2 separate regions of the Homo sapiens genome follow, and region 2 is linked to region 1. Evidence: fine-mapped expression QTL. A gene starts in region 1. The other region holds a variant in brackets. All regions are shown on one strand. Distances are between the middles of the regions.

Evidence for each region. PIP is the estimated chance that this variant, and not a neighbour inherited with it, causes the effect.
Region 2: its variant is the best candidate, but not a certain one, in a credible set for the expression of IMPDH1 in unexposed skin (GTEx, PIP 0.78).

The regions. Positions count from the first base shown.
Region 1 is chr7:128,407,983-128,412,360 of GRCh38, forward strand. IMPDH1 (inosine monophosphate dehydrogenase 1) reads right to left here and starts at 2,000. Exons shown (of 17, transcript NM_000883.4): 1 at 1,774-2,000; 2 at 1,459-1,502; 3 at 1,307-1,370. The coding sequence starts at 1,919. RefSeq lists a silencer at 1,527-2,146 and an enhancer at 2,417-2,656.
Region 2 is chr7:128,379,063-128,383,440 of GRCh38, forward strand. No RefSeq gene overlaps it. Among named protein-coding and RNA genes, the nearest start is that of PRRT4, 20 kb to the left of the region's middle. The variant T/C (reference allele first, on the strand shown) is at 2,513.

The DNA.
Region 1 (4,378 bases):
GCCCTGGGTTAGGCTGTGCTTTTCCAGAGACTCCGCTAATCCACCCTCAACCCCCACTCTCATACACCCTCTTCCTGATCTTCCCCAGCTGCTTCCTCCATGGGGAGGAGACACCGAGGCAACCAGTCGGCCTCCGAAGCCGAGGAAGGGCTGTTGTTCCCTGAGACCCCCACCTAGCAGCTGTGGGGATAGGAAGGCAGGTCCAAGCCCCTTCCTCAGGGTAGCAGGGCAACAGTGCCCAGCTGGGTACTGAGGTCCAGGCAGGGAACCCCGAGGGCTCTATCAGGCCTGGGGCTATTTGAAGGAACAAGATTTCAAAACACTCTTGAGGGGAAGATGGGGGAAGGGCAGAAAAGGTAGTAACATTAGCACTGTTGAGCTGGGTCGGGGGCATAGCCTGTCCAAGTTCAAGCCAGAGAGCAATAACACTGGATTCAAACCCAGGACTGCTCACAGAATCCTGTCCTCTTCCCACAGCTCCAGGTTGGCGAAGGCAGGTGGAGGTCTGGCCAGCAGGTTTTGAATCTCACTACACCACCTGGCTGGGGCTCAGGTTTACACAGGCTCCCTGAGCCCAAGTGGGGGGTGCGGGTCGGTTGGGGGTGGGGGTAGGGATGGCCCCTTGATGCAGAAGTGCAATCTGGAGAAAGGATGCACTCACATGGCTCCGGCCTGAGCTCTGAAACATTATGTTTGCAACCCCTACTCTAACCAAGCACTGCCTCTGTCAAGCCCCAACCGGCTCATTCAGCCCCTGTGGCCCCTCCCTATCGCCCTGCGGCCTGAACCCCAGGAGCTGGATTTCTAGGACAGGAGAAAGGCTGGGAGTTGCCTAAGCCTGAGTCAATTCTAGAGAGGCAGCCTGCCAGGACAGGGGGGCCTAACTCAGCAGCCCCACTGCCGAGGAGCCCCTTAAGCCGTTAAAAGTTCTTACATAAGCGGCCAACCCCTGGGCAGAGCTGCCGGGCTAATTCCCCCAGACCACCCCCATCTAACCCAGCTGCCAGGTCACCTCCCCAAGCTGCTGAACACCAGCAGATGGGCAGAGAAAGAAGTCCAAATCCTCTGGACCGGAAGGACAGTGGGATTGCATTTCAAGCTGCGATACAATCCAGAGATTAGCTGCTGTCTCCTTTTCAGCCAGTCCCCCTGGGGCCCAGCTCACTACCCTACTCTTCCTCCAGTGTCCCTCATTCCCCTACAGACCCCAGCATGGGGGCCTGCGTCTTCGGAGAGACCTTGAGGTGAGCTGCACTGGCAGCCTCTCAGATCTCAGTGCATGGTGAGGAGGGGAGAGTGTCCTCACCTAGCCCTGCGAAGGCGATCCATCTGGACACCAACACCTGCCAGTAAGACCACTGAAGATAGTTCTAGGAGGAAACAGCTAAGGAGGGGTAAGCCAAGTCAGTCGGACAGGACTCCAGCAAGCACTGTTTGAACCCCAGGAGTTGGAGCCACCTGAACGGGGTGTCGTCGGGTGTGTAGCGAGGTCCAATCTAGGGCTAAGATTTTAGGGAAGGTTTTTACGACCTGTTCCCTCTCCTCCGCTCCCCCGTGCAACGAAGCACCTAACCCTTCGCACAGTGCCCGTCTGCATCCCCCAACCAAAGCCGGGAGCGTGGCGTTTCGGGAAGTTAGAGGCTGAGGCGGTAATAGGGGAAGGGTTTGTGGGGCCTGCCCCTCCCCCGCAGCGTCGCCGGGTTCCCGGAGCCGCCGCGCCCTCCTCGGCCGCCCGCCCCGGATGCGCCCCGCGCGCTCTGCCCTGGGCGTCACCTCTCGGGCTCGTAGCCGGCCTGCAGCAGTCGGGCGCTGTACCGCTGCGCCGCCGTCTCGTGTCCCGGGTGTTGCCGGGCTCCGGGCTCCGGAACAGCGGCGGCTCCGCCTCCCTGCAGCGGTGGTGGAGTGAGTGGCCCCTCCATGCGGAGGCCGCAGCTCAGGGCGGGCGGGAGCCTGGAGGCTCCCGGGGCCCCGGCTGGGCAGTGAGCGCAGCCCGGTCGAGTCCCGAGGAGGGGCGGGGCCGCCGGGGCGGGGCCTCGTGCCGGGGGCGGGGCAGGGGAATCCGGGAGTCGACTGGGCTCCGCCCTGGGCTCCCCGCTCTCCCCGGCGCTGCTACGCAGATGCCTAGACTCGGTTCGTCTCTCCCATCCCAGATTCAGCGAGGGTACATCGGGGGATGAGGGGGAGAGGTGTCCCTACACGGGTGGGACTGGAAAGAACCCCGTCCCCTTCCCTGCCGTCCGGACCTTCCAGTGTCTCCTGGCCCCTTCCGAGGAAAACCAGAAGAGGAAAGGAGCTGGACTCCAGAGGCAGGGCTTCTCCTTGCGTCTCAGGTCCGCTCCTCTCTTGCACGCCGACGATGCCAGGTCCCCTGGAGCGCCTCATACCCGCAGACCGCAGACCTCCCGCGCTGGGGCGAGAGAGTCGTGCTCAGCCGACTCCACGTTAGAGAGCGGGGAGAGGGATCTCCACAGCCTGTAATCTGCCAGGGAACGAACAGAACAGACAAGGCTGCGGGCTCCTTAAGGAACAGGACCTAGTCTTGCCTCGTTGTGGAGGTACTTTACCTTGTTATGTTACCCCGTAACAAGGGAGTGGGGCAGAGCAGTGTACTCAAACTTGTTTGTCCACTTACTAGAAGGCGCACTTTTTCCTACTGTTATCATTGTGAACGGTGATTGAACACCTAGCAAAAATGGCAAAGAAATGTAAGAGTCCTTGCCCTCAGGCAATTTATTTCAGGAGACAAAGTAGATGAAAATAAACAGCTGATAATTCTCATGCCATATACAGATGGTCCTCGACTTACAATGGTTGACTTAAGATTTTTCAACCTTACAGATGGATTTACCCTGAGGTAGCCCCATCTTTAAGTCGAGAAGAATCTGGAAATTTTATTTTATTTTATTTTATGTTATGTTATTTATTTTTTATTTTATTTGAGACGGAGTCTCGCTCTGTCGCCCAGGCTGGAGTGCAGTGGCGCGATCTCGGCTCACTGCAAGCTCCGCCTCCCGGGTTCACGCCATTCTCCTGGCGCAGCCTCCAGAGTAGCTGGGACTACAGGCGCCCGCCACCACGCCCAGCTAATTTTTTGTATTTTTAGTACAGACGGGGTTTCACCGTGTTAGCCAGGATGGTCTCGATCTTCTGACCTTGTGATCCGCCCGCCTCGGCCTCCCAAAATGCTGGGATTACAGGCGTGAGCCACCGCGCCCGGCGCATCTGGACTTTTGTCTGACAAGTCTGAGGGAACAAATGGTAAACACTGCGTGATTGAGGAGTGCTAAGATGTATTAGGGGTCAGACTTTCAGCAACGATTTCACAAAGGAAGCTGAATTTATGCAACAGTAAGATCTTGGACTTTATCCTTCATCGTGCCTCTTCCTATGCACATACACACCCACTCCCCAGAATCAGGATTCTTTTTTTATTTAAGTTTTTTAAAATTTAGGTTGGGCGCAGTGGCTTATGCCTGTAATCTCAACACTTCGGGAGGCTGAGGCGGTCAGATCACCTGAGGTCAGGAGTTCCAGACCAGCCTGGCCAACATGGCGAAACTCCATGTCTACTAAAAAATACAAAATTAGGCTGGGCACGGTGGCTCACACCTGTAATCCCAGCACTTTGGGAGGCTGAGGCTGACGGATCACGAGGTCAAGAGACTGAGACCATCCTGGCCAACATGGTGAAACCTTGTCTCTACTAAAAACACAAAAATTAGCTGGGCATGGTGGTGTGCGCCTGTAGTCCCAGCGACTTGGGAGGCTGAGGCAGGAGAATCGCTTGAACCCGGGGGGCGGAGATTGCAGTGAGCCGAGATCGCACACTGCACTCCAGCCTGGTGACAGAGTGAGACTCTGTCTCCAAAAAAAAAAAAAAATTGCCAGCTATGTTGGTGCACGCCTGTAGTCCCAGCTACTCAGGAGGCTGAGGCATGAGAATAGCTTGAACCCGGGAGGCCGAGGTTTGCACTGAAGCGAGATCGGGCCACTGCACTCTAGCCTGGATGACAGAGTGAGACTGTCTCAACAACAACAAAAAAGCTAAAATTAATTCATTGATTATATTCAGTGTCCTCTGGTACTTTGTATTCTGTCCCTTTTTTGGTGAGGGGCCCAATAGATTGTGGACTCACCATTTAAAAAATACTACCCTAAAGCCAAAGGTTTCTGTTTGGAAATAAGCAGATAAGGTACCCATATGTGTTTATAAAGACTCTGAAGGAGAAACTAGTCAAAACCAATCAATTACTCAACAGATGAAACTTAGAACTAGCTATAGCCTAAAATTTAAAGGACTGTCTGTAAACATGTTAAACTGCGGAGAAAACCCAAATCCAAATAAAGTTACCAGGACAGTAAGAATGACATGAAAGAT
Region 2 (4,378 bases), 29 kb before region 1:
GGACCACGGCAGGGATGTCAAGAAAAGACAGGCCTGGAATGAGGACACGACAGGTCTGGAATGAGGGCACCTCAGCCCAGCTCTCTGGGGCTGCCCCCTCCCAGGCAGGCCAGAACACCTTTCCCAGCACCCACAGGGCCAGGTCCCGCTCTCTCCCAAGAGAAATGAAGAAAACTGGAGGTGAACAAGAAGCAGAGTGGTGAGGGGGGCGGCTTGAGGAATAGAGCCTGGAACCCAGGAGCCCTCCTGGCTCTGGTCCCTGGCCTTCTCCCCTCCTGCCCTGTATTCTAGGACTGGAGAATGGGAACAGGCCAGCAGAGGGGCCCTCCAGTGGGTACCTGATTTTTTTTTTTTTTTTTTTTTTTGAGACAGGGTCTCCCTCTGTAGCCCAGGCTAGAGTGGTGCAGTGGTAAGATCTCTGATTACTGCAACCTCTGCCTCCCGAGTTCAAGTGGTTCTCGTGCCTCAGCCTCGCAAGTAGCTGGGACAGCAGGCATGTGCCACCACACCCAGCTAATTTTTGTGTTTTTAGTAGAGACGGGGTTTCACCATGTTGGCCCAGCCGGTCTCAAACTCCTGACCTCAAGTGATCCGCCTATCTCAGCCTCCCCAAGTGCTGGGATTATAGGCATGAGCCACCGTGCCCAGCCCTGGGTGCCTGTTTTTCATCCCTTTGTGTCTGTAGCTCTTGGGGATCAGGAGTAGGTAGGGCAAGGGTCAGGGAAGTCTGCTGCACACATTACTTTGTAATGACAAAAAACAAGTCTTTTCATCTTTGGATAAGGATGACTGCTCCCAAGGCCTGCTTTGCTGGTCTCTATCTCCTTCTTTCTTCAGCCCTTAGGCTTAACTCAATCTTACTGTTTCCCAATGTAACAGATTTCTCATTTGCAAAATTGGGATAATAATTGTCTCTCCCTCCTAGAGTTACTGCCACCATTAAATGAATCAATATACACAGAGTGCTTTAAACAGTGCCCGGCACATAGAAATGCTGTCTGAGTGTTTGCTACTATTCTTACTACAGGACTAGGATTCCAAGGAGTGAAAGATGAAGCCGCTGGGTGCAGCGGAGGGGGTGGAGAAATCTGGGTCAGTGAACAGGAGAGACTGGTAGTGGGGGACACCAGGACAGGGCCGGGGGCAAGGAAGAGATGCAAGCGGCCAGGAGAGGAGTCTTACCAGTGGCTGGGCCACAAGGTGTACTCTCACCAGCAGGTAAAGAGGTGAGGGGGCTGGCAGCTGGGAGGAGCTATGCACCATCTGCAAGACTGATCTATTTTGTAGGGCAAAGTAGGCCCCAGGGCCGACTGTCCTTGTTCTCCTGTCACTGTGAAAAGGCACACAACTTGCCCACTTAGAGCAGAGTCCCCCACTCCTGCCCCTCCCACCCTGCCAAAGACCCCTGGACCACCCAAGCACAGGGTAAGGGGGATGGGGTGGTAGGTCAATGTCAGCACTGGGGGCTTGGATCCAAGCCCCTTCTCCTGCACCAACACCAAAGTAGGAACAAACCTCAGTGAGGCTTTGGCTTTTGACAGCCTGAAGGCTTTCCACAGGTGCCAGGCGAACTCAGCTGTTTCTTGCATCAGAAGAGTGGAGACCTCCTGCCTGTGACCCCCTCCCCTCCCAGGTCATGATCCCTCAGGTCCTCAGAGAACAGAGGAGCAGCTGAGGGGCCTGTGGCAGGGGGAGGACCACAACAAAGCCACCAGGTCAGCACCCACATAAGGCCTAGTCAGGGTGTCGATGCATAAAGGAAGACACCTTATGCTCCCTCTGGAGCCCCAGTACAGGCCCCCAGCTCACCTCTGCAGGCCTCTCCACTCCCTGCAGCCAAGAGCTGGGAAGGAACCTCATGGCAATCTCTGGCTCCTCCTCTCAGCCCTCCTCCCTGTCTCCTCTGAGATCTGAGGCCTTCGTGATGTAAGTGGCAGGACTGCTAAATGGCAATGTTGGTGCTGGGGCCACTTAACTCCCTGACCTGTGAGAGAGCCTGTCTGGGCAGGGAGGCTGGGGGCAGGGGCTGGTGGGGGACATGCTCTGTGCCTGGGGCTGCTGGGGGAGAAGAGAGGAGCCCTTCCGAAGCCCTCCATTCCTTTTCTCTCTCCCCTGGCCCCCCGGCCCTCTCCTGGGTATTGGGTGGGCTGCTGGATATCTGGAGTGCAGGCTATGCGTGCAAACAGCTTGTGGTCTGCATGTTTCTGCGCTCCCCACCCCACCACAAGCCGAGCCCTGATCATGTGGCCTGTAGGGGGCGCTAGTGGAACCCTTTCTGAGACCTGCCTAGGAATGAGGGCTTGGGTGAAGGGGACACACCCGAAATACTAGTGCCTCCAGCTATTGGGGCAGATTGCTCAAAACACACTTCCTGTTTTACAAGGTGTAATAAGTCATTCATCGAACTCCACCCCAAATTCTGAAATCCTAATAAAGTGTCTGGATCAGCCTTCCCTGGCAATGGAGAGAGCTGTGTTCCAGTTCTGCATTGGCACAGCTGCGAAGGCCGCTC[T/C]ACCCTCCTTCTTCCAGGCGGGGTCACTGCTGGTTGATAGGCGAGTGAAGTCATGTCTTTGAGGGCCAAGGGCAGGAAAAGCTGGGAGGGCGGAGACCACAGAGACGCAGGGCTGGCAGAAGCATGGAAGGTGACGAGGAAGCCCAGCGGAGGAGTGCTCACTTCATCCCGGCGCCCTGAGCAAGGCCATTCCCGGCCCCCGAGGGACCAGACCCTGCCAGGGAAAGGAGAGTGGGCAGCAACTCCCCCCACCCCCCGCCAGGCCCTCACAGCCAGTGCCAGGGGGTGAAGCTGGTGGGGGGAAAGTGGAGAATGACATATTGTGGGAGCTCCAAAGACACAAATCATTGAACGAATGCAGAGGAGAAAGGGACAGAAGTAGGCCCAGGTCCTCTAGGTCCTCGTATTCAAAGTGTGGCCATGGACCAGCAGCACCGGATGCTTGTTAGAAAAGCAGACTCTTGGCTGGGTGCGGTGGCTCATGCCTGTAATCCCAGCACTATGGGAGGCCATGGTGGGTGGATCACTTGAGGTCAAGAGTTCAAGACTAGCCTGGCCAACATGGTGAAACCCCCGTCTCTACCAAAAATACAAATTAGTCAGGCGTGGTGGCAAGTGCCTATAATTCCAGCTACTTGGGAGGCTGAGGCAGGAGAATCACTTGCACCTGGGAGGTGAAGTTAGTGAGCTGAGATCGCGCCACTGCACTCCAGCCTGGGTGACAGAGCAAGACTCCAACTCAAAAAAAAAAAAGAAAAAGAAAGAAAGAAAGAGAGAGAAAAAGAAAGAAAGAAAGAAAGAGAAAAGAAAGAAAAAAGAAAGAAAGAGAAAGAAAGAAAGAAAGAAAGAAAGAAAGAAAGAAAGAAAGAAAGAAAAAAAGAAAGAAAAGCAGACTCTTGCCCCCTACCCCTGCAATCTGCATTTCAGCAAGGGGCCGCCTGCCTCACAGACAGATGTGAGCAATCTAGAGGAGACAGCAGGGTTGCACTGCCATCCCCACCCATGTCCCTGCACATATTCAGCTGCCTTGGTGACCTGCCTTGGCTTAAGGTGGCCCAGAAAGTTCCCCTGCCTTCTGGCCAGACAGATCTGAGTGGGTCCTTCTGGAATGCACAACAGGTGCGGAGTGGGGGCAGCATGGAGCAGCCTCTCATCTCACTCCCTCTCCACCGTCCCCCGCCTCATCCCCTGGTGCTGAGTGAGCCCTGGTGACAGGCAGGCTCAGAGAAGGGAGCCCAGGAAAGGGAGGATCAGGGGCAGCCCAGAACGGGGTTATCTTGATCCTTGGAGGTGGAGCTTCCGCTGAAAATCTGGTGGAAGTTCTGCTCCCTCTGCCAGAAAAATGGACAGACACACAATGTTGCAAATATGGCAGGGGAATCATAGATCCTCCAGAGCCCACTTGTCCCACAGCCCACAAAATCCTCTGTTTCCTTCTACTCTGATGGTGCCTGAGTGCCTCCTCCTCCACTCCCCATGCCAGGGCTCCTCTGCCTCAGGGAGCTTGTAGGCCAGACCAAGATGCAAACCCAAGGGAAGCAAGCCAAAGCAGAGGGTCCATGGGGGAGCTCCAGGAGGGAGGGGTTTATTTCCAATCTGGGAGGCAACCTAGAGATTGCAACAAGGCCACAGGCTTTGGAGTCACCTAGGCTTGTCATCTGTACTGTGGGGATCCATGCTGCCCACAAGGATAGCATGAGATCATGGTAACGTGTTCAGAACTACTTCCTCTAGTTAGGGAAGAGGTCGCCATCCTAGCTAGGTGTGACCCCCACAAAGATGTCCATAATGCAGGACCTGTGAATGTGTTACCTTACATGCCAAAAGGAACTCTGCAGGTGTGATTAAGTTGAAGGTTTTGAGATG